7 separate regions of the Homo sapiens genome follow, and regions 1, 2, 3, 4, 5 and 6 are each linked to region 7. Evidence: fine-mapped expression QTL. A gene starts in region 7. Each other region holds a variant in brackets. All regions are shown on one strand. Distances are between the middles of the regions.

What was found. PIP is the estimated chance that this variant, and not a neighbour inherited with it, causes the effect. A credible set is the group of variants that fine-mapping cannot tell apart.
Region 1: its variant is the best candidate, but not a certain one, in a credible set for the expression of CA2 in whole blood (INTERVAL, PIP 0.61).
Region 2: its variant is the best candidate, but not a certain one, in a credible set for the expression of CA2 in whole blood (TOPMed, PIP 0.89).
Region 3: its variant is the best candidate, but not a certain one, in a credible set for the expression of CA2 in whole blood (INTERVAL, PIP 0.90).
Region 4: its variant is the best candidate, but not a certain one, in a credible set for the expression of CA2 in whole blood (INTERVAL, PIP 0.74).
Region 5: its variant is the best candidate, but not a certain one, in a credible set for the expression of CA2 in whole blood (TOPMed, PIP 0.88).
Region 6: its variant is the best candidate, but not a certain one, in a credible set for the expression of CA2 in whole blood (TOPMed, PIP 0.83).

Annotation. Positions count from the first base shown.
Region 1 is chr8:85,827,003-85,831,071 of GRCh38, forward strand. It overlaps the pseudogene REXO1L6P. Among named protein-coding and RNA genes, the nearest start is that of LINC02849, 26 kb to the right of the region's middle. The variant G/A (reference allele first, on the strand shown) is at 1,991.
Region 2 is chr8:85,867,947-85,872,015 of GRCh38, forward strand. No RefSeq gene overlaps it. Among named protein-coding and RNA genes, the nearest start is that of LINC02849, 15 kb to the left of the region's middle. The variant C/A (reference allele first, on the strand shown) is at 2,201.
Region 3 is chr8:85,642,787-85,646,855 of GRCh38, forward strand. It overlaps the pseudogene REXO1L8P. Among named protein-coding and RNA genes, the nearest start is that of CA3-AS1, 180 kb to the left of the region's middle. The variant C/T (reference allele first, on the strand shown) is at 2,373.
Region 4 is chr8:85,289,983-85,294,051 of GRCh38, forward strand. No RefSeq gene overlaps it. Among named protein-coding and RNA genes, the nearest start is that of CA13, 47 kb to the left of the region's middle. The variant A/C (reference allele first, on the strand shown) is at 1,634.
Region 5 is chr8:84,848,345-84,852,413 of GRCh38, forward strand. RALYL (RALY RNA binding protein like) reads left to right here. Exons shown (of 9, transcript NM_173848.7): 5 at 1,636-1,683. Among named protein-coding and RNA genes, the nearest start is that of LRRCC1, 260 kb to the right of the region's middle. The variant A/G (reference allele first, on the strand shown) is at 2,174.
Region 6 is chr8:85,947,399-85,951,467 of GRCh38, forward strand. No RefSeq gene overlaps it. Among named protein-coding and RNA genes, the nearest start is that of LINC02849, 94 kb to the left of the region's middle. The variant T/G (reference allele first, on the strand shown) is at 2,150.
Region 7 is chr8:85,462,146-85,466,214 of GRCh38, forward strand. CA2 (carbonic anhydrase 2) reads left to right here and starts at 1,862. Exons shown (of 7, transcript NM_000067.3): 1 at 1,862-1,970; 2 at 3,127-3,324. The coding sequence starts at 1,937. It overlaps CA3-AS1 (CA3 antisense RNA 1), which reads right to left and starts at 2,770. Exons shown (of 3, transcript NR_121630.1): 1 at 2,437-2,770; 2 at 591-656. RefSeq lists enhancers at 1-70, 1,971-2,470 and silencers at 1,098-1,357, 1,428-1,747, 1,858-2,327.

The sequences.
Region 1 (4,069 bases), 360 kb after region 7:
CCTCGCTGGAGTTGTGGCCGTCCTGGCTGTCCTGGATGATCTGTGCCAGGTAGTCGGCCGCGAGATTCCTGAGGGAGCGCTTGTAGGGGAAACCCAGGTAGTGCGGGAAGAGCACGGCCGTGTCCACCACGGTGCTGTGGATGAGCTTCAGGGCCAGCAGGTCGCTCTCCAGGCTGTGCCCGATGAGGATGGTTTGGGCGCTGAAAAAGCTCAGCAGGATGGCTTGGACTTGGGGCAACGTGATGCTCGTCTTGGCGACGTCGGCCTCGGTGACTCCGGAAAACCTGGTGTTGTAGTCCACGATCTCGTTGTCGGGCTTGACGAAGGTGTCGTACACCACTCGCATGTCGGCGTCCACCACGGTGACGCGGGTCAGCTCTAGGCCATGCGTGGTGTAGCACATCTCACAGTCCAAGGCGTAGATTCCTGGATAAGCGTCTCTGGACAACTCTTTCTTGAAGGTCTCCACGAAGCCATCGAGGCTCTCCTTGCGGCCGTCCCGCACGTGCTGCTTTGCCACCTGGCAGCCCACAGAGCCAGGAGCAGCTGCACAGCAGGTGTACTGGCTAACCCGGCCTCCAGCCACCTGGCTCGAGCGGACCCGCCCCCAGTGATAATAACACAACTGGTCGCGTACACAGCGGCCCGAGGAGGACACCAGGTACTCGGTGCCACAACGGCAGCAGACCCTGCAGGAGGAGTCGCCGGGCCCCTTCCCCTGGCCAGTGAAGAGGACGGCGCCTCCGGGCCGCTCGGGGTGCGGGAAGGGGTAGCCGTTCTCCTTGAGCTGGTCCTGGGTGAGCAGGAACTCCTGGAGGCGGCTGTACAGGGCGGCCCTGCTGAGGCCGGGCATGGAGCTGGGGGTCAGGCCCTTCAGTCTCTTGAGGGTGTTCAGGACCACGTTCAGGTACCTGTTCTTGTTGGGGCTGCAGTCGTAGGCCACCTTCTCCTCGTTCAGCGCCTTCTCCTCGGCCTCCTGCTTGGAGGCGCAGAACTTGAGACACTCTTCGGTGAACAGTTGGAGATAGCCTCGGCGGAGGACGGTGGGGACTTGGCACCCAGAGCTTCGGAGGATAATGGGTTTCTTCAAACTCAAACTCGGTAAGGATGCACGACGGACGATTCGCTTAGAGCTGGTGGTGGCGGTGGTCTTGCATGCCATCCCTGACCTGTTGCGCGTCTTCCCTGGCTGTCTGCCGACCTTGGAGCCACGGGAGCGTTGGCTGCTGCTGGCCACCCGGGTTCTCTTGGCATCTGTGTAACCTGTGACCAAGCAAGGGCTGGAAGAGTGGGCGATCGTCTTCCTCTTCCTGGGGGCTGAGATGCGGACTCCCGAGGGCCTCTCTGTCAGCCTTGGGGCGGCTGGCAAGCGGCAGGCCGATCCCCTCTGCGCAGGGAAGTAGCACGACTCCGTCACCATCTTGGGCCACGCTGGGGGCACCGCCGGACCCCTGTTCTGGGGCTCCGCCTGGATGTCCACAAATGCTGAGGCCTGCTTGTGCATCTGGGGCACCCAGAGCCCGAAGCTCTGGGCAGGCTGATGAGAGGGCAGTGGGAATTCTGGAGCCTCGAGGGCCGCCTCCTCGGCCACCTTCTTAGCTTCTGGGTATCCAGGTGGGAACCAGCAGGGAGCTGTGGCTCGCAACATCTTGCTGCCTTCGGGAGCACCGGCCTGGCTCTGCTCCTCTCCCCACTGGCGGCTTCAATCAGTGTCGCGGTGGTCGCGCATCGCCTTTATATAGGCATGGGTCAGAGTGGGTGGGGCTTCTTCTTGATTACGTTGGTACTTTATTCTAATCACACTAAATCTCATCTTCCACCAGACTCCAGCTTCGGAATGCCTCAGAGGGTCTGCTAATGGAAGCAACTGGATCTCCTGGTTGCTAACCTTGGAGCTAGGTTGCTTTTCCTGAGTTAATTTACTGTGCCTGCACAGCAGTCCTATAATGGCTACTGGAACTGGGCTACTTAGGAGTAAAATGAGGTTCAT[G/A]GAGGTTGTTCAACTTGTTCGGGCCCAGACAACATCCCACGGACCCAGGACTGGTGCAGCAGTCCGCTGCATGCTGGCGGGCAGGATCTCTCTGGGGTTGCGTTTCCCTGCTCTGTGCACTCTTCCACTGTGGGCAATTGGAGGACAGGAAGTGGACCACATCCACTTCTGTCCCAGGACATGGGCAATGTTGAATACTGGGGGTCTTCAAAAAATTCATAGAAAATGCACATGGTTAAAAAACTATTCATGGATTTCAGTTTGTTTGCACTAAAATAAACTTGTAGTAACTTTTTACAACCTTTCTGAACTAGACGTAGTTTGAGGCATAAAGAAGGATGAGACATCCACTGAAAACATCTCCTATCAGAGCAACATGAATTCCGCTAAAGTTGCAGCAAGAACAAACATTAAATTTATGGTGAAGCTTGAGTGGAATAATGTAGAAATTATTGATGTTTTATGAAAAGCTTGTAAGGACAATACCCCCACAGAAATCAGCCGTTTACCAATGTAGAGTTTGTTTTAAGAAGAGATGAGAAGATGTAGAAGGTGAATTCTGCAGTGGCTGTGAAAACCAACTGCTATGGAAACCACTGTGGCCAGATCAGCTGCAGTTAGGAGGAGAGCTTTCAGTGGAAATTTTAAACAGGAGAGATCATGGTCCTGTCTAAAATGTAAACTAAAAATGCAAACATTATCTGAGCATGATGGCGGGTGCTGGTAATCCCAGCTACTCGGGAAGCTGAGGTAGGAGAATTGAACCCAGGAGTTGGAGGTTGCAGTGAGCCGAGATCTCGCCACTGCACTACCGCCTGGGCGACAGAGCGAGACTCTGTCTCAAAAAAAACAAACAAAACAAACAAACAAAAAAACAAAAAACAAAAAACCCAAACAAACAAACAAAAAAGAACTTGCAATGTTCCAGTTATTTATCCATAATACCTTCCTCATAAAAATTCAGGAAAGGGATATTAGTTTGGGGAAATAGTTTCTCCAAAGTCTAGAAAATCTTGAAATAACTCTGCCACCTGTGAAATTTCATCTTCTCACTGAGAATACTCTCACCTCCCAGATATATTTTCTCTCATGTAACCAGCTGTGGGTACACAGTGAGGGTCTGGCTGTCATTTGCTGTTTTTCCTGCTGACCACTTCTTTCTTTAGCTGTACTTTCTTTAAATGCAGTGAAAGTCTGCATCTGGTCAAAGACTCATTGTGTCTTTAGGCCTGTGAGGCATTTTTATTCTCCTATTATGTACTGATTTAATTAGGTCATTTCTCAGAACTTTCCTGACCCCCGCTGGCACAGCACACAAAGGTCTGCAGAATTTTCTACTTCTATAAATCCTCAAGCATTCAGCCAGCACCTGTGAGTGCTTTTCTCAACTCAGACCCTCACAAAATACAGCTTTTCTCAACTCAGACCTCATTTTAATATAGAGGATGTGTGTGCTTGAAACCCTGGACGTTATTTTCATTGCAGTTAGAAAGTTTGTTATCAAATCCTATTTATAATGTTTTTGAACGGTGGCCTCATGTTGAACATAACAATGATGAAGAAATACAAAGCAGCCTGCATAGGTGGTGACAGAAGCGTGAGGACCCGGCAAAGTCAGGGAGAGTTAAGTGGACCAATTATGCAATCTGCGCAACAGAGACAAAGGATCTGCAGCATGGCTCCACCCATGCATCCAAGACAATGATCTCCTGCTGAAGAACTTCTAGACTGGCCTGTGGGGTTCTTTTGGTATCAGACCATTGTTCTTTGCTTCCCCATTTATTGCTTCTGTAACACACAGATTGGTTTAAAGCTTTTAAAAATCTATTAAATTTTCTCTATACCCCTGTTGAAACAAATTCTATGGTTAATTTCTTACATACTACTTTAAAAAATATTTTTGTTCTTACTCATCTCTCAGAGATTACTCATTCATGCTAATGCTTCTGGTCAAAACATGTGTGTTCCATTTTTCACACTATTCTTCATCTTCTAGATTTCAATTTTGACCAATTTTTAGTCTTTTAGGTTATAGGCCCACGAGTTCTAAATGCTAGTAAGGTATTAATATGGACTCCA
Region 2 (4,069 bases), 410 kb after region 7:
CACACCACCACACTCCATCCCGAGTGACAGTGCAAGATCCTGTCTCAGGAAAAAAAAATAGTATCATCATGCATGGTAAATGGAAACTTACAAATATTACCTAGTTAGGTTGGTCAGGATGTCTAAACTATCTTTGCAAATGATAATTGCTAACATTATTGAGTACTGTGATGTGCCACATGGATATATTTTCATCTCGTATAATACTCATAAAAGCTCAATGTGGTTTTAGTTACTCTTATTATTCCCATTTTAAACATGTGAAAACTGAGGCTCAGAAAGCTTAAGTAACTTCCCCAGTGTTCTAGTTATCCATTGCTACAAAACAAATCGGACAAATTTTTTTTTTAAATTATACTTTAAGTTCTAGGGTACATGTGTACAATGTGCAGGTTTGTTACATAGGTATACATGTGCCATGTTGGTGTGCTGCACCCATTAACTCGTCGTTTACATTAGGTATATCTCCTAATGCTATCCCTCATCCCTCCTCCCACCCCCTGACAGGTCCCGGGGTGTGATGTTCCCCTTCCTGTGTCCAAGTGTTCTCATTGTTCAATTCCCACCTATGAGTGAGAACATGCAGTGTTTGGTTTTCTGTCCTTGCAATAGTTTGCTGAGAATGATGGTTACAGCTTCATCCATGTTGCTACAAAGGACATGAAATCATCCTTTTTTATAGCTGCATAGTATTCCATGGTGTATATGTGCCACATTTTCTTAATCCAGTCTATCATTGATGGACATTTGGGTTGATTCCAAGTCTTTGCTATTGTGAATAGTGCTGCAATAAACATACGTGTGCATGTGTCCTTCTACCAGCATGATTTATAATCCTTTGGGTATATACCCAGTAATGGGATGGCTGGGTCAAATGGTATTTCTACTTCCAGATCCTTGAGGAATCACCACACTGTCTTCCACAATGGTTCAATAGTTGAACTAGTTTACAGTCCCACCAACAGTGTAAAAGTGTTCCTATTTCTCCACATCCTCTCCAGCACCTGTTGTTTCCTGACTTTTTAATGATCCCCATTCTAACTGGTGTGAGATGGTATCTCACTGTGGTTTTGATTTGCATTTCTCTGATGGCCAGTGATGATGAGCATTTTTTCATGTATGTGTTGACTGCATAAATGTCTTCTTTTGAGAAGTGTCTCTTCATCTTCTTCGCCTACTTGTTGATGGGGTTTTTTGATTTTTTCTTGTAAATTTGTTTGAGTTCTTTGTAGATTCGGGATATTAGCCCTTTGTCAGATGAGTAGATTGCAAAAATTTTCTCCCATTCTATAGGTTACCTGTTCACTCCGATGGTAGTTTCTTTTGCTGTGCAGAAGCTCTTTAGTTTAATTAGATCCCACTTGTCAATTTTGGCTTTTGTTGCCATTGCTTTCAGTGTTTTAGACATGAAACACTTGCCCATGCCTATGTCCTGAATGGTATTGCCTAGGCTTTCTTCTAGGGTTTTTATGGTTTTAGGTCTAACATTTAAGTCTTTAATCCATTTTGAATTAATTTTTGTATAAGGTGTAAGGAAGGGATCCAGTTTCAGCTTTCTACATATGGCTAGCCAGTTTTCCCAGCACCATTTATTAAATAGGGAATCCTTTCCCCATTTCTTGTTTTTGTTAGGTTTGTCAAAGATCACATGGTTGAAGATGTGTGGTATTATTTCTGAGGGCTCTGTTCTGTTCCATTAGTCTATATCTCTGTTTTGGTACCAGTACCATGCTGTTTTGGTTACTGTAGCCTTGTAGTATAGTTTAAAGTCAGGTAGCGTGATGTCTCCAGCTTTGTTCTTTTGGTTTAGGATTGTCTTGGCAATGTGGGCTTTTTTTTCGTTCCACATGAACTTTAAAGTAGTTTTTTCCAATTATGTGAAGAAAGTCATTGGTAGCTTGATGGGGATGGCATTGAATCTATAATTTACCTTGGGCAGTATGGCCATTTTCACGATATTGATTCTTCCTATCTATGAGCATGGGATGTTCTTCCATTTGTTGTGTCCTCTTTTATTTTGTTGAGCAGTGGTTTGTAGTTCTCCTTGAAGAGGTCCTTCACATCCCTTGTAAGTTGGATTCCTAGGTATTTTATTCTCTTTGAAGCAATTGTGAATGGGAGCTCACTCATGATTTGGCTCTCTGTTTGTCTGTTATTGGTGTATAAGAATGTTTGTGATTTTTGCACATTGATTTTGTAT[C/A]CTGAGACTTTGCTGAAGTTGCTCATCAGCTTAAGGAGATTCTGGGCTGAGACGATGGGGTTTTCTAAATATACAATGATGTCATCTGCAAACAGGGACAATTTGACTTCCTCTTTTCCTAATTGAATACCCTTTATTTCTTTCTCCCACCTGATTGCCCTGGCCAGAAGTTCCAACACTGTGTTGAATAGGAGTGGTGAGAGAGGGCATCCCTGTCTTGTTCCAGTTTGCAAATGGAATGCTTCCACTTTTTGCCCATTCAGTATGATATTGGCTGTGCGTTTGTCATAAATAGCTCTTATTATTTTGAGATACATCCCATCAATACCTAATTTATTGAGAGTTTTTAGCATGAAGGATTGTTGAATTTTTTTAAATGCCTTTTCTGTATCTATTGAGATAATCATGTGGTTTTCATCTTTGGTTCTGTTTATATGCTGGATTATGTTTATTGATTTGCATATGTTGAACCAGCCTTGCATTCCAGGGATGAAGCCCACTTGATCTTGGTGGATAAGCTTTTTTATATGCTGCTGGATTCAGTTTGCCAATATTTTATTGAGGATGTTCATCAGGGATATTGGTCTAAAGTTCTCTATTTTTGTTGTGTCTCTGTTAGGCTTTGGTATCAGGATGATGCTGGCCTCATAAAATGAGTTAGGGAGTATTCCCTCTTTTTCTATTGATTGGAATAGTTTCAGAAGGAATGGCACCAGCTCCTCCTTGTACCTCTGGTAGAATTTGGCTGTTTATCCATCTGGTCCTGGACTTTTTTTGATTGGTAGGCTGTTAATTATTGCCTCAATTTCAGAGCCTGTTATTGGTCTATTCAAGGATTCAACTTCTTCCTGGTTTAGTCTTGGGAGGGTGTATGTGTCTAGGAATTTATCCATTTCTTCTAGATTTTCTAGTTTATTTGCGTAAAGGTGTTTATAGTATTCCCTGATGGTAGTTTGTATTTCTGTGAGATTGGTGGTGATATAACCTTTATCATTTTTTATTATGTCTATTTGACTCTTCTCTTTTTTCTTCTGTATTAGTCTTGCCAGTGGTCTATCAATTTTGTTGATCTTTTCAAAAAACCAGCTCCTGGATTCATTGATTTTTTGAAGGGTTTTTTGTGTCTCTATCTCCTTCAGTTCTGCTCTGGTCTTAGTTATTTCTTGCCTTCTGTTAGCTTTTGAATGTGTTTGCTCTTGCTTCTCTAGTTCTTTTAATTGTGATGTTAGGGTGTCCATTTTAGATCTTTCCTGCTTCCTCTTGTGGGCATTTAGTGCTATAAATTTCCCTCTACACACTGCTTAAATGTGTCCCAGAGATTCTGGTATGTTGTGTCTTTGTTCTCATTGGTTTCAAAGAATATCTTTATTTCTGCCTTCATTTCATTATTTACCCAGTAGTCATTCAGGAGCAGGTTGTTCAGTTTCCATGTAGTTAAGCGGTTTTGAGTGTGTTTCTTAATCCTGAGTTCTAGTTTGATTGCATTATGCGAGACAGTTTGTTATAATTTCTGTTATTTTACATTTGCTGAGGAGAGCTTTACTTCCAACTATGTGGTCAATTTTGGAAAAGTGTGATGTGGTGCTGAGAAGAATGTATATTCTGTTGATTTGGGGTCGAGAGTAATGTAGATGTCTATTATGTCCACTTGGTGCAGAGCTGAGTTCAATTCCTGGATATTCTTTTTAACTTTCTGTCTCATTGATCTGTCTAATGTTGATAGTGAGGTGTTAAAGTCTCCCTTTATTGTTGTGTGAGAGTCTCAGTCTCTTTGTAGGTCTCTAAGGACTTGCTTTATGAATCTGGGTGCTCCTGTATTGGGTGCATATATATTTAGGATAGTTAGCTCTTCTTGTTGAATTGATTCCT
Region 3 (4,069 bases), 180 kb after region 7:
GTCGGACCTTCCACATCACCAGCTGCAGGCAGGCGTTTGCGTCCTCGCTGGAGTTGTGGCCGTCCTGGCTGTTCTGGATGATCTGTGCCAGGTAGTCGGCCGCGAGATTCCTGAGGGAGCGCTTGTAGGGGAAACCCAGGTAGTGCGGGAAGAGCACGGCCGTGTCCACCACGGTGCTGTGGATGAGCTTCAGGGCCAGCAGGTCGCTCTCCAGGCTGTGCCCGATGAGGATGGTTTGGGCGCTGAAAAAGCTCAGCAGGATGGCTTGGACTTGGGGCAACGTGATGCTCGTCTTGGCGACGTCGGCCTCGGTGACTCCGGAAAACCTGGTGTTGTAGTCCACGATCTCGTTGTCGGGCTTGACGAAGGTGTCGTACACCACTCGCATGTCGGCGTCCACCACGGTGACGCGGGTCAGCTCTAGGCCATGCGTGGTGTAGCACATCTCACAGTCCAAGGCGTAGATTCCTGGATAAGCGTCTCTGGACAACTCTTTCTTGAAGGTCTCCACGAAGCCATCGAGGCTCTCCTTGCGGCCGTCCCGCACGTGCTGCTTTGCCACCTGGCAGCCCACAGAGCCAGGAGCAGCTGCACAGCAGGTGTACTGGCTAACCCGGCCTCCAGCCACCTGGCTCGAGCGGACCCGCCCCCAGTGATAATAACACAACTGGTCGCGTACACAGCGGCCCGAGGAGGACACCAGGTACTCGGTGCCACAACGGCAGCAGACCCTGCAGGAGGAGTCGCCGGGCCCCTTCCCCTGGCCAGTGAAGAGGACGGCGCCTCCGGGCCGCTCGGGGTGCGGGAAGGGGTAGCCGTTCTCCTTGAGCTGGTCCTGGGTGAGCAGGAACTCCTGGAGGCGGCTGTACAGGGCGGCCCTGCTGAGGCCGGGCATGGAGCTGGGGGTCAGGCCCTTCAGTCTCTTGAGGGTGTTCAGGACCACGTTCAGGTACCTGTTCTTGTTGGGGCTGCAGTCGTAGGCCACCTTCTCCTCGTTCAGCGCCTTCTCCTCGGCCTCCTGCTTGGAGGCGCAGAACTTGAGACACTCTTCGGTGAACAGTTGGAGATAGCCTCGGCGGAGGACGGTGGGGACTTGGCACCCAGAGCTTCGGAGGATAATGGGTTTCTTCAAACTCGGTAAGGATGGACGACGGACGATTCGCTTAGAGCTGATGGTGGCGGTGGTCTTGCATGCCATCCCTGACCTGTTGCGCGTCTTCCCTGGCTGTCTGCCGACCTTGGAGCCACTGGAGCGTTGGCTACTGCTGGCCACCCGGGTTCTCTTGGCATCTGTGTAACCTGTGACCAAGCAAGGGCTGGAAGAGTGGGCGATCGTCTTCCTCTTCCTGGGGGCTGAGATGCGGACTCCCGAGGGCCTCTCTGTCAGCCTTGGGGCGGCTGGCAAGCGGCAGGCCGATCCCCTCTGCGCAGGGAAGTAGCACGACTCCGTCACCATCTTGGGCCACGCTGGGGGCACCGCCGGACCCCTGTTCTGGGGCTCTGCCTGGATGTCCACAAATGCTGAGGCCTGCTTGTGCATCTGGGGCACCCAGAGCCCGAAGCTCTGGGCAGGCTGATGAGAGGGCAGTGGGAATTCTGGAGCCTCGAGGGCCGCCTCCTCGGCCACCTTCTTAGTTTCTGGGTATCCAGGTGGGAACCAGCAGGGAGCTGTGGCTCGCAACATCTTGCTGCCTTCGGGAGCACCGGCCTGGCTCTGCTCCTCTCCCAACTGGCGGCTTCAATGAGTGCTGCGGCCGCCACGCGTCGCCTTTATATACGCACAGGGCAGACTGGGTGGGACTTCTCCTTGATAGGTTGGTGCTTCAGTCCAATCACCCTGAGCCTCATCTTCCACCAGACTCCAGCTTGGGAATGCCTCAGGGGGTGCGCTAATGGAATCAACTGGAGCTCCCGGTTGCTAAACTTGGAGCTAGGTTGCTTTTCCTGAGTTAAGTAACTGTCCCTGCAGGGCAGTCCTATAATGGCTACTGGAATTGGGCTACCTAGGATTAAATTAAGGTTCAGGGAGGTTGGTCAACTTGCTTGGGCCCACACAGCACCCAATGGAGCCAGGACTGGGCCAGCAGTCTGCTGCATGCTGGAGGGCAGGATCTCTCTGGGGTTGCCTTTCCTTGCTCTGTGCACTCCTCCGCTGCGGACAAATTGAGGACAGGAAGTGGACCGCACCCACTTCTCTCCCAGGAGTTGGGCAATGTTCAACACAGGGGGTCTTCCAAAGGTTCATAGAAAATGCACATGGTGAAGAAACTATGCATGGATTTCCACTGGTTTGCACTAAAATAAACTTGTCCTAACTTCTTATAAACTTTCTGAACTAGATCTAGTTTGAGGCACTAAGAAGGATGAGACAT[C/T]CACTGAAAAGGACTCCCGTCAGAGCAATATGAATTCCACGAAAATTGCAGCAAGAGGAAACATCAAATTTATGGTGAAGCTTGGGTGGAAGAATGAAGAAATCATTGATGTATTAAGAAAAGCTTATAAGGACACTACCCCAAGGAAATGAACTCTTTACGAATGTATAGCTTGTTTCAAGAAGAGGTGAGAAGATGTGGAAGATGAATCCTGCAGTGGCTGTGAAAACCACTGTGCCCAGATCAGCTGCAGTTACGACGAGAGCTATCAGTGGAAATTTTAAACAGGAGGGATCACGATCCTGACGCATCCCTCTGACAAATTGTAAGCGGCAGTTGGAACATGGCTTCACCAATATGATCTCCAAGGCAAAGCATCATGAAAGCGATGGCTACCAAGAGGTGGCAGCGGTCCAGTCAAAGGAAAAGGAGGCCAGTCAGGAGCCCACATCATGGCATCAGTGTTTTGGGACACTCAAGGCATTTTGCTTGTTGACTTTCTGAAAGGCCAAACATCTGCTTATTAGGAGAGTGTTCTGAGAAGCTTAGATAAAGCTTTGGTAGAAACATGCTGGGAAAGTCTCACTAGATCCTTGTTCACCACATCAATGCTCTGCTCATTCCTCTCATCAAACAAGGGCAATTTTGTCAGTTTCAATGGGCAGTCCTTAGGAATTCACCTTACGGGCTGCTTTCATTCCTTCTAAATTCTTTTTGTTTCCTAATGATAAAAAGTCTCCTTGCCTTGCTTGGAAAGATGAGAGAAAGTCTCCTTGACTTGTTTGGACAGATGAGAGATGAGATCCTCCTCTTCTCTCCCAGGACAGAATGGTGAGACTTGAGTTTCCTTTCTCCTCACTCTTCTCCTCCTTGAGGGAGCTGCTGTGCCGGACAGACCTGCCCCCGTGTCTAGACACTGGTAGACTCGTTTAAGTTCCTCACAGGCAATCCTCCATGGGGTCAAAGTGGAAGGACTTATTTCTTCAGGGCTCGGTAGTCCACATCCTGGCGCGCACCTTCACCAGCCCAGGGCGGGGTAGAGGAGGGTGAAAGGGCGTGGCTCAGAGCCCGCTTCTTCCGCTCGGGCGTATCCTGGGAGGAACCCTTGTCCGGTGAGCATGTCTTCGTCTCTACCAAATTCCCTAGTGGGACATTTCTGGCAGCCCTACTTGTTCAGCAGCTTACGGGGGTCAGGTGGACCTCTGCTAGTCACCAGCCTGAAGCCCTTTCTCCATTTCAGCTATTTTGGCAGTTGCCTAGGTGACTTTTGAACCTCATTATCCAGAACAGCAAACGGACGAGGGGTGAGAAGAGTGGCCGTCTGGGTTTGCAGCATAGTGCTGCCTTCTAGGAGTTGTGCAGTCTTCGATTGTGTGAAACTTCACCTGGCTGATTTGTGGCAATGCCTCCACAAATTCGCTAAATTCAGTAGCTTTTGCCTTCCAAGATTCATTTACACAATGTTGAATGCTTTAAATGAATGAGCATGAAGAGTGCTGGGCTGGAAAGTGATGAGATGGGTGGTAGGGACTCCTCGGAGTAGAGGAGTAGAGTTTTACTATTATGACTAGGAGGCAAATAAAAAGAAGCTGAACGTGATCCATAATAAAAGAAGCACACACTCACAGAGCTCCATACCAACTACATTAAAATGGAAATCATGATATTTGGAAATACAACTTAATTGGAAATCATTA
Region 4 (4,069 bases), 170 kb before region 7:
TCTCACTCTGTCACCCAGCTGGAGTGCAATGCCACAATTCAGCTCACAGCAACCTCTGCACCCCAGGTTCAATTAACTGGGACTACAGGCACACATCACCACATCCGGCTAATTTTTGTACTTTCAGTAGAGATGGGGTTTCACCATGTTGGCAAGGCTGGTCTTGAATCCTGACCTCAGGTGATCCACCTGCCTCAGCCTCCTGTTGGGATTACAGAAGTGAGGCACAGCGCCCATCCTCCCCAGGATTTCTAACCAAGTGTTGCCCTTTTTTGTTCTGGCTAAGGTTCGCGCATCTCTCCTCTGAGTAAAATCTTCTGCTGCCATCATCTGGACAACTAGGACAATTTCTTTCACAGCCAGTGCAGTAGACCAGCAGTTCTCAAAGTAGGATTGGCAAGCTCCTGGGGGTCCTTGAGACACTTTCACGGAGTCAGTGAGGTCAAAACTATTTTATAATAGTACCAAGTGTTATTTGCATTTTTTTAGTAACTGTTTTGGCATTTGCACTGCTGGTACAAAAGGGTTGATGGTTTCTTACATAAATCAAGGCTGTGGCAGTAAACAATACTAGTAGTCTTCACCACTGTCCAATCGCAGTTTTAAAATGTTATTGTCTTTCAAGAATGTTCTAGTTCCTAAGTAAAAATTACTAATTTTATTAAATCCCAACCCTGAGTCTACATTCTTTTAATATTTGGAGTCAAGAAATGGAAAACCCGAATGAAGAACTTCTGCTGCATATTGAAGTATGACGATTACCTTTAGGGAAGCACTTCTGTGATTGTGTCTGAATGGCAAACTGAATTAGCCTTTTTTTTTTTTTTTTTTTTGTTTTTGTAGAGCACCATTTTTATTTGACAGAAAAACTGACAAACTGTGGATATTCAGGCTTGGGTAATTGGCAAATATTTTCTTGGAAATGAACAAAGTGAGCTTGTCACTTCAAGAAAAACAAGCTAAAGTATTTGTGGGCAATAGTAAAATAAGATTTTTCAAGAGAAAATTTGGATTTTGGAAAGTTTGTATCTGCCTCTGTCGGCTTGCCTGCTTTTCAAGGGATGGAGACATTTCTAATTAGACCACTGGTTATTTGAATAAATGTGATCTGGGGGAGATATTTTATAATGAATTGTGTTAACATTTTGAAGATATGCCCAACTTGGTGGACTGATATTTTCTAAATGACCAGTGCATGATGTTACACAGGCATGCACAGAAAAATCTGTCTATCCAAAATTCAATATAGAACAATAGATTTTACTGGAACAAGTATGAAAAGTTTATTCCTGTGGTTTATTCATAAAGTTTATTCATATGGTTTTAAGAAACCATCACTTGTGGCCGGGCATTGTGGCTCATGCCTGTAATCCCAGCACTTTGGGAGGCCGAGGCAGACGGATCACATGAGGTCAGGAGTTTGAGACCAGCCTGGCCAACATGGTGAAACCCTGTCTCTACTAAAAATACAAAAATTAGCTGTGTGTAGTGGCGGACAGCTGTAATCCCAGCTACCTGGGAGGCTGAGGCAGGAGAATCGCTTGAACCGGGGAGGCGGAGGTTGCAGTGAGCCGTGATCGCGTCATTGCACTCCAGCCTGGGTGACAAGAGCCAAGACTCCTTCTCAAAAAAA[A/C]AAAAAACCACTACTTGTTAGGTTTTGGTGTAGTACTGAAGACAAATATACACAATTATCTGAAAAAGCTACTAACTTCCTCCTCCATTTTTCAAGCTACATATCTGTGTGTCTGGATTTCCTTCAAGCAGTTCAAACAAAACAGCCTATCACAGCAGATTGAATGCAGAAACAGCTGTAAAAATCCAGCTGTCTTCTATTTAGCCAGACATTAAGGGATTTATAAAAAATGTAAATATCTCTTTTTTTAATACCTTTTCTGGTAAAATATTATTTACACAAAATTTGTTATTTATGCTAATTTATTATTCATTATATGCATTTATTACCTTTAAATGAATTAATAAAGAAATACTTTAAATCTTCTGTTTAAATTTCCAATTCAGTAAATATCAACAGATATAATCCACATAAACAAAAGCTCTTTGAGATCTTCAGTAACTCTTAAGAGTGAAAAGGGTCCTGAGACCAGAAGGATTAAGAACTACTCCTGTGGCCAGTCACCGTGGCTCACGCCTTTAATCCCAGCACTTTGAGAGGCCAAGGCAGGTGGATCACTTGAGGTCAAGAGTTCGAGACCAGTCTGGCTAACATGGTGAAACCCCATCTCTACTAAAAATACAACAACAACAAAAATTAGCTGGGTGTGGTGGTACGTGCCTGTAATCCCAGCTACTTTTGAGGCTGAGATAGGATAATCGCTTGAACCTGGGAGCCAGAGGTTGCAGTGAGCCAAGATTGCGCCACTGCATTCCAGCCTGGGCGACAGAGCAAGACTCCATCTCAAAAAAAAAAAAAAAAAAAAAAGCACTCCTGTAAAGCAAGCCCCATGATTCAGTGTCCTACCACTTGTTCGTCCCAGCACTCCTTTCTTCTAAAGTAGTGATCAATTCTACTGAGCAAAGTGGCATATGCTGTAATAAAACCATATACACCTACACAAATATATTACCTAGATACCAAAAGGTAATAGTATTCACACTGTCTCACACTATTAGACACAGCACTCGTCACTCTATTCCAGGCACTCTAGGTTCCCTCTTCCTTTATGGCCTTTCCTCACTTTTACTGTTATCTCTTCCTTGCCACTTTACTTCCTCCCATCAAGTCCAAGGCCAAGGGATCTGTGTTAATTCCTGTTTAGATGCTAAAGGGACAATATAATTTTCATTGTGTTTGAGTTAATTCCTTGAATTCAAGTCTCAACAATTTACTGTATAGTCTCTTAAGGCCCTGGCCAAGCAGTTCCCTGGGTTCTATCCACAAAAATTCCCTATCTAGTTTTGTTCCTAGCAAACTGCCACCCCTCCTGTTCTAAGCATTCGGTTTTGAAAACCTGTCCCTAGTGCCTTCTATTTTCTTGTGTATTTCTGAATGATTCTGACCATGAACTTCAAGTTTCTTTGCCACGCTCTTTCCCAGTCTCAACTTTTACACGTATTGGCCTCCCACTTCTTCTCATGCCTTCTCTTCTACCTGTAGGCATTTACATTTCCAAGGCCCTACCTTGCAGTTCTTCCCTCTTCTCTTGGAAAAGAGCAGTAATCTATCTTGACAGATTTGTTACACTTTAGGTTGTTTTTGTTTGTTTGTTTGTTTTTGCTGGATTATAGCACTGCAATAGGCATATGTGGCCAGGAGTAGACCAGATGGCTATTTCCCTAGGGAGTCTCAGGAGTTTGATGAAGTCCTCTAGGTATAGAGTCAAACTCTCAGCTCTGCAAAATCAGAAACATAATTTGTCAGCACGATGTCCCTTTCTCATGGGCAGACTTACCATAAGTGAGTTCACAAGTCTGAAATATAAGTTAAAAAGTCAAGTTATTAATTTATAATGAGTGATATGAGTCTTACATTAGCTGGAACACTAATCAAACATGAACGTTCATTCAAAGAATATTTCTTGAGCACCACTAGGAAGTCCACTCTATACAGGAAACCAAATTATATAAGATGTTTACTTGGTGAGTATGGATCTCAGAAAAATACGACAAATAGGAGAAAGAAATTGTCTGAAACATCCGACTCGTCTAAAGAATCATTTTCAAAGTGGGACATAATAATAGAATTTTGTTGGCTGTACTTCCCAGCATTTTCTTCAAAATATGTATAGTTTTGCCAAAAGGACTAAAATACTTGGCCTGTTGACTAATGTTTTCTTAAACACTGGAATATATTTGGATAAACTAGCAATATGTGCTTCTGTGGTTTTCAGTTTTCTATTCTGTGATAAATCCACCATTTCCCTAGTTGGCACTTCCTTATATTGGACATGTTAACACATGCACTCAAGTAAGATTTTCAAATCTGAAGCCACTCTGCCCTTTAAGGAGTGTGTTTATATTTTGGTTCTTATTCATAAGGTATATATTGCAAAGTCCAACTCTGAGAGAGCAAACATGTAATATAAAATTTTAAGCTCATTTTACTTATTCT
Region 5 (4,069 bases), 610 kb before region 7:
TTTAATAATATTCTATTGGAGTAATACTTTTAAATATTTTGTGTGTGTGTGTGCATATATATATGTGTGTGTATATATATATGTGTGTGTGTGTATATATATATATATGTATATATCTCATCCCAATGGAATATTGTTCATCCTCAAAAAGGAATGAAATTCTGATACATACTACATGGATAAACTTTGAAAATATTATGCTAAGTAAAATAAGCCAAACACAAAAGAACAAATATTGTATGACTATATGATTGTATGATTTGTATTTGTATTAATGACAGAGGCTGGAGAGGCAGGAATGGGAAGTTATTGTTTAATGAGTATAAAGTTTCTGTTTAGGTTGATGATAAGGTTATTGAAATGGGTAGTGGCAATGTTTGTACAATTTTGTGAATGTACTTAACGCCATTGAATCATAAACTTTAAAAAGATTAGAATAGTAAATATGGAGTTATGTATGTTTTGCCACAATAAAAAGAAAACGAGTAAGTAAACTTTTTTTTTTAAATTACTCCCCTGTGGTACAGTTACTCCATTCATCATCACATTAAGACTTCTTCCAGGTTGGGGAGTGTTGCGAGATGTTGTCAAAATGACCCCACTTGTGAAATCAGAAAACTTTCCCTTAAATCTCAGCTCTGTCACCTAGTAGGAATGCAAATTTGAGCAAGTCACTTAGGTCTGTTGCACCTTAATTTCTTCAGGTTATGCTGTCCAACAGAGTTGTTTTGATGACTGTAATTGAAATGCATATAAAGTGCTTCGTAAATTCAAACAACAAGGCAAGTGGATGGAGGTGACTTTTTAAAATATATTCTTTTAGGGAGCTTAGTCGTAATACTGTTATCTCTGAAATGCATTTACTAATTCATATTTAAATATACTAAAATATTAAGGTATTGTTGGTAAGACAGCCACAGTTATTTTTCTAATTTTTCTCTATTTAAAGTATTGAATCCATAGTTTTAGAATTAAAAAATCCTGAATTTCCAAGGAACCACATTTCTATTCACCATTTCTATAATGAATGGGTTATTAAACCTTTCCATTTATCTTATTTCAATACCTTTTGTTCATTATGTAGCCTCATTGTACATACCTTAGGAAGAAGGGATAATTATATTACCTCAGAGAGAAGGGACAACTATATGATTATCTTGTCTGAGATGAAAAACTATGGTCTTCATTCATACCTAATTAAAAGTTTTTTGTTTTTGTTTTTTTTTTTTTGAGACGGAGTCTCGCTCTGTGTCGCCCAGGCTGGAGTGCAGTGGCGCGATCTTGGCTCACTGCAAGCTCCGCCTCCCGGGTTCATGCCATTCTCCTGCCTCAGCCTCCCGTGTAGCTGGGACTACAGGCGCCCGAAAAGTTTTAACTTATTTATTTTGCTACCTGTTCTGATTTTCATTCCAAACCACACCATTATCAGTCCCTACATTGTCAAACATGTAATAATAATTTGGCATGACATTATATCAAATTGGACATTATCTTGGAAGGTCCTTTGGATGCATAATTATATTGAAAAATAAATATTTTAAAAGTAACAAATTTTATGCTATAACATCATAAGTTAATAATAAAATTAATGTCATTGAAACAAATGCCAACTAATTTTTTTGTTTCCCTCTTTAGCGGTTATGTCTTTGACTATGATTACTACAGAGATGATTTCTACAATCGGTATGTGAATTTTTCATCCTTGTTTTCCTATGACTTAAATTATCTTTTAACCATTTTGTACATTTTATTCATGGGTGCTCTTAATTATGGTATTTAAAACAATATTATTATAGTTAAAAATAAAATACTAAATCCCAACAAAATATACAGATTTTTATATTTTCATTATACTTACTTGAGTACAGTGGATCTTGGAATTTTAGGACTTTGGAGGTGCTCAAACCTAAGATTTGGTGTCTAATATTTAGATAAAATCCTAAAGATTTAATTAACTAATATTATCTGCCAAGTCATTTGTTGATTTAGAATCCTTCAAGATCAAGAGTTTGAAAACTCAGAAAAATAACTCCAACCTTCTGAAGTCCATAATAAAACATTGAAAATGCTATATTGGGTAGAGTCTGTAAAATTTACAGATCGTTCCTGCTTTGCAGGACAGTAGGAGGCCACAAAGGTGATGATGCAAGATGAGACCATCCAATGAGGAAAA[A/G]ACAGGATTGTCTCATGATCTTAAACATGTTTGTCAAAACATTAACAACTTTTATTCTCTTCTCTATAAACTAATGGGAAACTATAGTAAAGCTAATTGTTATTTAGTATACTATAATTTAAAACAATAAAATATTAAGAATTAAGGTGTTTTAGTTCTTTGTAAAGAACACTTATCAAAAGTAGTTGAAACAGTGCATGCCTTCTCATTTCCTAACTCAGGACAGGATACGGAGTAGGCATCTGTTTTATCCCTTGTTGGATACTCCTCTCTAAGGTTGAATTAGCTTTGACATTCTATCAATGTTGTGAACTATCTCTGAGAGTTCTTTCAATGTGTGATTCTCTTGCCAGGGTCACTTCCCCTCCATAGCGTTATACGTTTCATCACATCACATCCACTTTCCTCACTTATGTCGATAAGTTTGCCTTTACTAAGTTCCTCTGACTCCATACCTAGAGTCTCTTGAGTAGAGGAGTATCAATATCCCTATAATGAGCTATTTCTTCTGTAATTTCATTTACATTTAATTTGAGTTTCACATCTAGTATTATCACTCTTCGATTCTTTGCTGCATTTTCATCTTTGATCAATTCTTTCTTTTGATTATTCAATTTTGCAAAATGCCACGTTTTGTCACTGAGAGATAAGGAAGCATTACAATTAATGATCTGAAACAAGTGAGTGAAGTGAATAATCAATGAACAGCAAAAAAAATCATTGACAGACTTTGAAAGATGGAATGTGATTAGTGATCATTGTTATTATCATGCACATTTATTATTTATGCATTTATTTGTGGAAAAGCTAGAAGCAAAGTTTGGACTTTATTAAATTACTTACCGTTTATATGTTGTAGTAACTAAAATTTGTGTTGTCGGAGAACTGGTGTTATTTAACTAATATCAGTAACTGAAATTTATGCATATCAGAGATGAGGATCAACTATATATAGATAGATTACGGGATTAAAAAATGAGGTAAATATATTTTAAGCCTTTAATTATGAGTATTATGCAAACAACAAAAAAAACCTTAGGTACTGTATAAAAATGCAAACTTAGAAAAAATTTTTCAATAGATGTTTTAAAGAGGAAGTAACTGTGATCCTTGAAAGGGTCTTATTCTCTCTGCTCCAGCCTCTAGGGCCTTTTGTAAGTTCCACAAGAATTCCATGTTTCTTCCTGCCTCAGGTCCTTTCTCTGTGTTGTTCCATCTCCTCATACCTCCCTACACTACCTGGTTCACTTGACTCCTCATCTTTCAGATCTCAGCACGAACATCCCTCACAGATTAAATTAGGTTCCTCTGTTCCTCTCGCTCAGCGCCCAGCACTGTTACTTCACAGCACCTCTCCTAATTTCTATTGCTATATTTCTTTCTGCAGTGTTTGATTCATGTCTGTCTTCCTTCCCCCACCTGAACAATGTTCAGTTTTGCTTATCTTTGTATCCTTGGGGACTATCAGTAAACCTCACACATAGTGGATACTCTGTATTATTAATTCATCTCCTTAGATTTAGAGACACAGTCATTTTCCGAAGGTCACCAAGCTAATTAGTGACAGAACTATGATCATAATCTAGGCATCCAATTTAGATTCAATAACCAACTATGTGAATATGCACAATGGGGAGGGCAATATCAGCCTATGGAGCTATGCGATTCCTACTTGAGAATCAGACCCACAACTGTAACTTCATTGCTGCAATGGTCAAACTACTGAATTAAGCAACTTATTTCACTAGTTATCCTTTTCTGACAAAAAAATATAATCTTTAAGAATGATTTTCTCAAAGCATTTTATAATTTCTATAAAATATATTTTAAATATTAAGAAACTTATCATAACTTATTCTAAAAGTGATGCAAACATCTGGCAGCATTAAAATAATC
Region 6 (4,069 bases), 490 kb after region 7:
AATGTTTAATGTTTTATGGAACTTCCAGTTTTAATAAGTCACTCTATTATGTTGCATTCTCATAAGCAAATTATGGGAGTTCTAGTTGCATTATATTCTTAGATATTCTGATGTATTCTTATTCTAATTTTAGCTACACTAATCTTTATTAATATTTAATAAACACTTATGTATTCTAGATACAAATCTGTTGTCAGACTCATGTGTTGTAAAAATGCCCATCCATTCCGTGGCATGCCTTTTAATTTTTCTCAATGGTGTCTTTGGAGAACAAATCATTTTTTTTTAAATGAAGTCCAATTTATCAACTTCTTATGCATTTATTTTCTGTCTATGAAATTCTTGCCTAACCAAGAGCACAGACATTTTTTCCTATGTTTCTGTCTATAGATTTTATAGATTTAAATTTTATACTTAGGTCTATAAGTCATTTAAAGTAAGTTTTTGTGTAGAGTGTGAGGTGTCAGTTGTTTGTTTTTCTATATGAAAATCTCTGTTCCAGCCCTGTTTGTTAAACAAAACAAAACAAAACACCTTCCATTCCCTAACCCATCTATTTATCAAGTGTAGAATATAAAAGGAAATTGTTGTACATTCATTAAATGGAATAGTACACCTCAATGAAAATGAATAAATTCGCAATATGTGCAATTTATTTGTGAATTAATCTCACAAATACTAAGAAGAAAAACACAAAAACTGCTAAATTATAAGTTTTCCAAATAAACTTTATAAATAAGCAAAATTAAATTACATTATTTAAGGATGCATGTTTATGTCATATAACCATAAAGAAGAGTAAGAATAAGTGGTCACAAAAGTTAGGGCAGTGGCTTCCTTTCAAGAAAAGAATGAGGCTGTGATGGGGAAAAGGCATTTCAGGACTTCTGGGATATTAGCAATGTTCTACTTGTGGTTATACAGATATATGCTTAATAATTATTCACTGGAATGTGCATACAAGTTATATTTACTTTTTTGTCAATGTGTTAGATTTCATCAGAAAAGAAGAAAGATCAGGATAAAGTATCTGAAACTGTATCTGCATGAAAATGGTAACAGCTGTGGTTTAGTGAAGAAAGTCCTGGCACTGATAAAAATGAATTTGGGCAAAGTCACTTAACCTCTCTGAGCCCCTTCATTTGTGAGGTGAGGATGATAAAATTAGATAAATTATATAATAGCTCTTTGTAAGTTGAGCCATGAAATAATAATCATAGTAACTATTATTATTATCATTACAAGGGAGTGGGCAAAATGACTTAAACGAAAAGATTGCAGTTCATCTGTTCCCCTCTCTAGCCTGTGTGGCTTTCCCACTGAGCAGCCATGAAGCTGTGCCCCTCAGAAGAAGCTGTGCCCCTTCAAGTGTGTAGTTGGCTGACACTTCCAGCGGCCGCATTTTTAGGATCCACTGGAGCATTCGCACTGAGGTGACTCTCTCCCCAGGTTGCTTCTGCCAGTACCTGAGCACGGTGGGAGTACTAGAGTTGGGCCATTTCTGCACAACACAGGACTCTTCCAATGGCCAATATTTGTTCCTAAGGCTCCACCATTGGCCTGGCCAAGACCTCGGAGCTGTGCTGCACTCAGAGGCTCTTCCTACCCGATCCTCCATTCGCTCCTCTCCTTCCTCAGGTCAGACCTACGTTGCTGCTTGAAGGCTTTCCCTGACTTCTACTTCACCTTCCACGGGACTTTCCTCCATCTTGGAAGACCAGAATTGACTAACGTATGCAGAACAGTGCTTTTAACTAGCAAGAACTATGCAAATTAAAAAAAAAAAAAAAACAAAAAACAAGAAATTGTATGAGATGTTGTTTACAGGTGCTGAGATTTCTGACTTGTAAACCAACAGCTTCATACAGACAGTGCAAACCAACTTTTGATTTATATTTGATCCCTTTGTCCCACATAAACAAGGCCAGAAACACAGATATGAATATTTTTATCCAAAAAAGTCCATGAATAGAACAACTGAGTCTTCAAAATGTTTATTTTGCATACTAAACTACATTTTCTTTACGTATTTCTATATTAGATCCAGATTTTTAAAAATAAATTTATGAAAGGCCCAATGAATCTTGATTTGCTAAAGTCTCTCAATGTGAAGTCTTCTAAATAAATGCCTTGTGTCAATTTTGATATG[T/G]CACAAAGCTGTAGAAGTCAAAAGATGTAGAGAATTTAAAGATTGTAGCAAGCAGATTATATTAAAACTTTTTGCATCCATATTTTGTGTTTGTGTTTCAAATATTTACCAAGTCAGCAGCCAAATGAAAATGATTTTTGCATAAACTGTAAATTGCAAATTTCAAGAAACAAGGAAAATGCATTTAAATTTATTTCATTTAAAAATAGTCATGCCTTGGTGTTTACAGATTTTTTCTTCTAAAACTTTTTAAGAAAACAACAGGCAGCATACTTTGAAAGTGCTTTATTTTAAACCACCAGTGCATTTTCCTAAAATTAAACTGAAGTCTGGTTTACTCTAGCATAGTTACTTTAGGAAGTATTTAATCCAAATTCAAAATCACACTTAATTTCATTATTTAAGAACCGAATACCTCACTAAATTGTCAATCTATAAAATGTACCACTTCGATCATATATAAGGAAAGCATAGCTGATTATCTGCACTACTTTATGTCATATTTGGGACAGTGGTGGGTAAGATAAAGTATATTATTAATAATCGAACCTGGGTGAGAGGCAAGAATTATGCCACTGATCCAACGAAGTACGTAATATCACAACTGTGTTTGTGCAAAACTTCACCTCATTGACTCTGCTACCAACACTGTCTTCCTTTTTTTCTTTTCTTTTTTTTTTTTTTTTTTAAGATAGAGTCTAGCTCTGTCACCCAGGCTGGAGTGCAGTGACTCAATCTCAGCTCACTGCAAACTCCGCCTCCCGGGTTCACGATTCTCCTGCCTCAGTCTCCCGAGTAGCTGGGACTACAGGCGACTGCCACCACTCCTGGCTAATTTTTTGTGTTTTTAGTAGAGACAGGGTTTCACCTTGTTAGCCAGGATGGTCTCGATCTCCTGATCTTGTGATCCACCCACCTCAGCCTCCCAAAGTGCTGGAATTACAGGCATGAGCCACTGCACCCGGCCCCAACATTGTCTTCTAACTCTCATCTGATTCTTTTTTTATTTTCTTGATCAACTAGCTCTGCTTTCTCCTGTTCACCTGCTCATTTTCTTCCCTACCTGCTTGCTTATCTACCTTATTTTTGATTTGTAGATTGAATAGATGTTTAAGCCCAATATCTATTTCTCAGTTTTTCCTTCTTTCTCTCTGTGTAGTTACAATTCACCTTCTTTGGAATCTTCATTGTACTCTCTCAGATATCACCCTTGGAGTTGAGGACTCCAACTTTCCAGATCTTCTTTTGCACAAGCACCCTGAAATGCATCCCTTAACCCACTGCCTTATCTTCCAGATCTTGTCCATCATTCTTAACAATTTGACAGCGTGTCCAGAACATTGCGCCTAAATGAATCTAACAAGAGGTAAGTTGAACATAATATTGGTATTTGAAAGTCTTCAATAGAATTAGGCCCTTAATTTAGCTTTTTCTAAGACTTTAAACATTCAAATGTTTCTTCTGCTTATACTTAAATAGTCTTTAAGGCAACTTATTTGTTCCCTGAACAAACTTCAGTTGCTTAAAAAAAAAAAAAAAAAAAAAAAAGAGGGCCGGGTGCGGTGGCTTACGCCTGTAATCCCAGCACTTTGGGAGGCTGAGGCGGGCAGATCACGAGGTCAGGAGATCAAGATCATCCCGGCTAACATGGTGAAACCCCGTCTCTACCAAAAATACAAAAAAATTAGCAGCTCGTGGTGGCAGGCGCCTGTAGTCCCAGCTACTCAGGAGGCTGAGGCAGGAGATTGGCATGAACCCAGGAGGCAGAGCTTGCAGTGAGCTGAGATCGCACCACTGCACTCCAGCCTGGGTGACAGAGCAAGACTCCATCTCAAAAAAAAAAAAAAAAAAAAAAGAGAAAGAAAGAAGGAAAGAAGAAGAAGAGAGAAAGAAAGAATGAAGGAAAGAAAAGAAAGAAAG
Region 7 (4,069 bases):
CAAGTGAAGAGTCTCATAGCAACTAAGTTAATATTTGAAAATTATGTAAAGAAACAAAATTACATCAATGGGCCCCAACAGATACAATGCACCTACAGAGGCACAAATAAAAGCTTCTTCTTTGCTACAAACTCCATTTTGTAATGGTCCTAAAAATTTAAAAACTTTATTGCTGCTTTCTTGCCTAAGAATTCCCTGTGACATCAACCCAAAACCCACATAAGCAGAAGTACACAATTTTCTAGAATCTTAGAACAAGTAAGTCTAAACATGAATCATATTTGTTTGGATGAAATTGACTGAAATAAATAGTAAAGAGTGATTTTGAGATACATATTGCAAAAATGTCCACTAATAACTTATCCTTGTATTTATCTGTATATTTTCAAAGGTAAGTAATGTGATGTCAAGGCCGACACAATCACATTAAACTGTGTCCTGCTTCCCCAACTGTAACTCTAATACTATTGCCCTCAGAGATTGCAGAGACCACAGAACCGAACTCCTTCCCACAAACCCCCGGATTTTTCTGTGGCAAAATCCCTTGTAGGAAATGAATTCTCTCTATATCTCAAAACAGCCTCACTTACCCAGTAGGCCCTGTAAGCACAGTGTCTCAGGTCCACAATACTTTTAGATGCCCAGGAAAATGTTTCCTTTTAAAATAAGAACAAAAAAGAAAAAAATTAGGTGTTGGTTAAAGAAAATGTTTAAATATATAATATTAAGATATTTATCTTTATGTCAGTGTTGGTATAAATGCGTGTTTATGAAAAAGGGACCCACCAAGGTGAAATGCCGTAGGACCCACAAATGTCATAATGCTGGCTGGCCTCAAAATGTCCTTCCTATTAAACTATTTTGAATGATTCCTAGGTATGCCAGATGCCAATTTTTCTTGGCCAGCCAGGGAACGTCTCATGTCTTTGGAAGAAATTATCTTTCTCTTACTGGATTCTTCTGAGAAAAGTGATTTGTTAAAAGTTTTGGTTATTTCAAATCAATATGTACTCAACTAGGACGTCTCCTCACCCACGTTAATTTTTTAAAGAGGAGGAAAGTAGGAGAAGATGAGCGCTTCATGTAAGGCTCTGCCAGCCTACGAGGAAATGCAATCCTCCAGGCTCGCCCGAGCGTGGGCTGCGGGCAGGGGACTGTGGGGCCGTTGTCTCGTTTTATTCCACGGCCGTGCAGCAGAGGGCGCGTGCCTCTCAGCACTCATGCTGCGCGCTCCCCTGCGCCTCTAGGATCGTATCCCTATTTGCCCCAAGGTCATAGCTCCTAACCCAGCTTGCCAGCCCCAGGCCGGGGACACCAGAGACTGAGCCCTTCGCGCTGGAGACCCCGGCGCGGGTGGGGCGGGAGGGCTCCGGGGCCAAGAGACAGGTCACAATGGGGACAGGGGACGAAAGGCGCCGGGGGTCCGGGTCCCGAGCAGTCCCCGCCGCCGCCAGACTCCGCAGCCGGGAGGGGGATGGGGTGCGCGTAGAGGCTCCGCGGCCCGGGTTGGACGGAGGAGCCCAGGAGCCACCGCAGCCGCCGCACGCCCAGAGCTCCGAGCTTCGCTGCCAGCCCAGGACACCGGGGCCCTGCCGTGGGCCGAGGGGAGCCGGGCGGCGGGAGAGGAGCCCCGGAGCCCCGGAGCCCCGGAGCCCCGCCGGGCGCCAGCCGAGAGGGCGTTTTCCCCGCCCCCGGAGACTCGCCCGCCCGGCCCGCCCCGCCCCGAGCGCGGGGAGTTCACCTCCGCCCGTCACCACCTCCCCTTGTCGCCTAGGTCCACCCGAGCCCCCTCCCCCGGGCCGCCCCCGAGCACGAAGTTGGCGGGAGCCTATAAAAGCTGGTGCCGGCGCGACCCGCGGACACACAGTGCAGGCGCCCAAGCCGCCGCCGCCAGATCGGTGCCGATTCCTGCCCTGCCCCGACCGCCAGCGCGACCATGTCCCATCACTGGGGGTACGGCAAACACAACGGTGAGTGCCGGCGACGGCCAGCGCGGGGGCGCCCCGATCCCCGATCCCCGATCCCCGATCCCCGAGCCCGGATGCCGGCCCGGGGCCCGCAGCGCCCGCACATGCTGTTTACCGCGGCCGCGGGGAGTGCTGGAGGCTCAGGTGCGCCCCGGGCGCTCGCTCCGCTCGCGGCTCCGCGGCGCCGGGGATGTCCCCCTTGCCCCAGCTGCGAGGCCACTGTGGAGGAATCCCCGCGTCCGCCGGAGGCGCGTAGGGCCCGAGGGAGGGGAGGCGCAGCCCTGGCCGCGGGACCCGAGGACAGTCCCTCCCGGGTCCCGACCTGGGGATCATTTTAACCGGACCTAGGAGGAGGCGGGAAAGGGTTGTAACGGAAAATTCTAGTTGTTGATCGCAGAGAAATTAAGAGACTCCCCTCCCCCCTCCCCCACCTTCCACCCCCACCCCACCCCTCCAGCTTCAGCACCACCTGTGGCTAAGGCGCTCAGCACGAACTGTCCCGGGGCATTTTCCAGTGCTGGTTTGAATCCATGGCTCTGATTTCCGAGTTTTCCCTTCATCTCTCGACTTCTAATGTTAGGGGGTCGGACATCAGGAATCGGGTTTTATCTTGGCCTCAGATCTGGTTCTTCGGAGCCAGCGGAGCAGAGGAGCATGCGTCTGGCGCACCTAGCGCATCTTTGGAGGGTGTGGGGCTTCCCAGGTAGTGGGGAACCCTGACGGTTAAAGGTGGGGTGGGCCCGGGCCTGGGCAGTGAGGAAAGGATCCAGACCTCCTTGAATGTCTTAAGTGAGCTTGCATATCCCAAAATCGCAACCACAAGCCCTGACATTAGTGTCTGCCCGATTTCAGTTGCTGAATTTCAGTAAAACGACCTTAAAATAGCTAATATTTATATAGCACTCAGTGATCTAAGAGCTTTACATATATCGATTCTAATTCTTACAGCGACATCTATGAGGTAGATTTCTAATTATCCCATATTACAAATGTGGAAACTGAGGCACAGATTACGTGTTTTCCCAAAATTTAGCCCATTGTTAAGTGATGCTTCTAAAATTGGAACTGAGCAGATTGGCTCCGGAATGATTGCTCTTCTCTAGGGGTCTGGGTGTACCTTTCCCCACAATGGGGGATTCACATGTCTTCTTTCCCCCAGGACCTGAGCACTGGCATAAGGACTTCCCCATTGCCAAGGGAGAGCGCCAGTCCCCTGTTGACATCGACACTCATACAGCCAAGTATGACCCTTCCCTGAAGCCCCTGTCTGTTTCCTATGATCAAGCAACTTCCCTGAGGATCCTCAACAATGGTCATGCTTTCAACGTGGAGTTTGATGACTCTCAGGACAAAGCAGGTCAGTGTTTAGAAAATAACTTGTGTCTTTTAGCCAGTAGCTGTTTTCCGAGCTTAATGGAAGGAGCCAGGAACAGTGGCAGGAACCCTCTTAATAATACAGTTTGTCTCAGGACTCAAGGATGCCACCCTGATCATTTTCATTAGGTCTCAGATTCTGAGAAGTAGGCTAATTAGTTTGAAGTGTCCCGGGGCCGTTTCTTCCCTGTAAAACCCTTGGCTTCTATGAAGGCCATTGAATAACTGCGATATGCCTGTGAAAAATCACAAAAGGTGCAAAGTCCCCTCGCAATAAAGATCAGTCACGATGAGATTTGCACCAATTGAACTTTTAAGATTGTAAAATATTTTGTCTTGCAGAGCTGATGCATATCCATTAAAAAGTATATCTTAGTGAGCCTTATCTTCAAGTTAGCAGCGAGAAGAGTAACAAAAACGTGCCAATTTAAAATACTGAAATTCTGGGAAAATGTTTTACTTATGAGTATTTCTTAGTATTGGGCTAGTGTGATAAAGATGGCAGCATGTTTTGATATCTACTCAGAAATTCATTTCACAAACGAAGATGTTTTAGAGTTGGTGAACATACCTGGCCCATTACTGACAAAACCAATTACCGTATTTATTGGTAATAGAGCTGTTTACAGGATGCTCACTGTAAAAAAAAAAAAAAAAAGAAAGAGAAAGAAGAAAAAAAATCCTGCTTTTTTTTTTTTATCTCTCTCTCTTTTGAAACAAGAGAACAA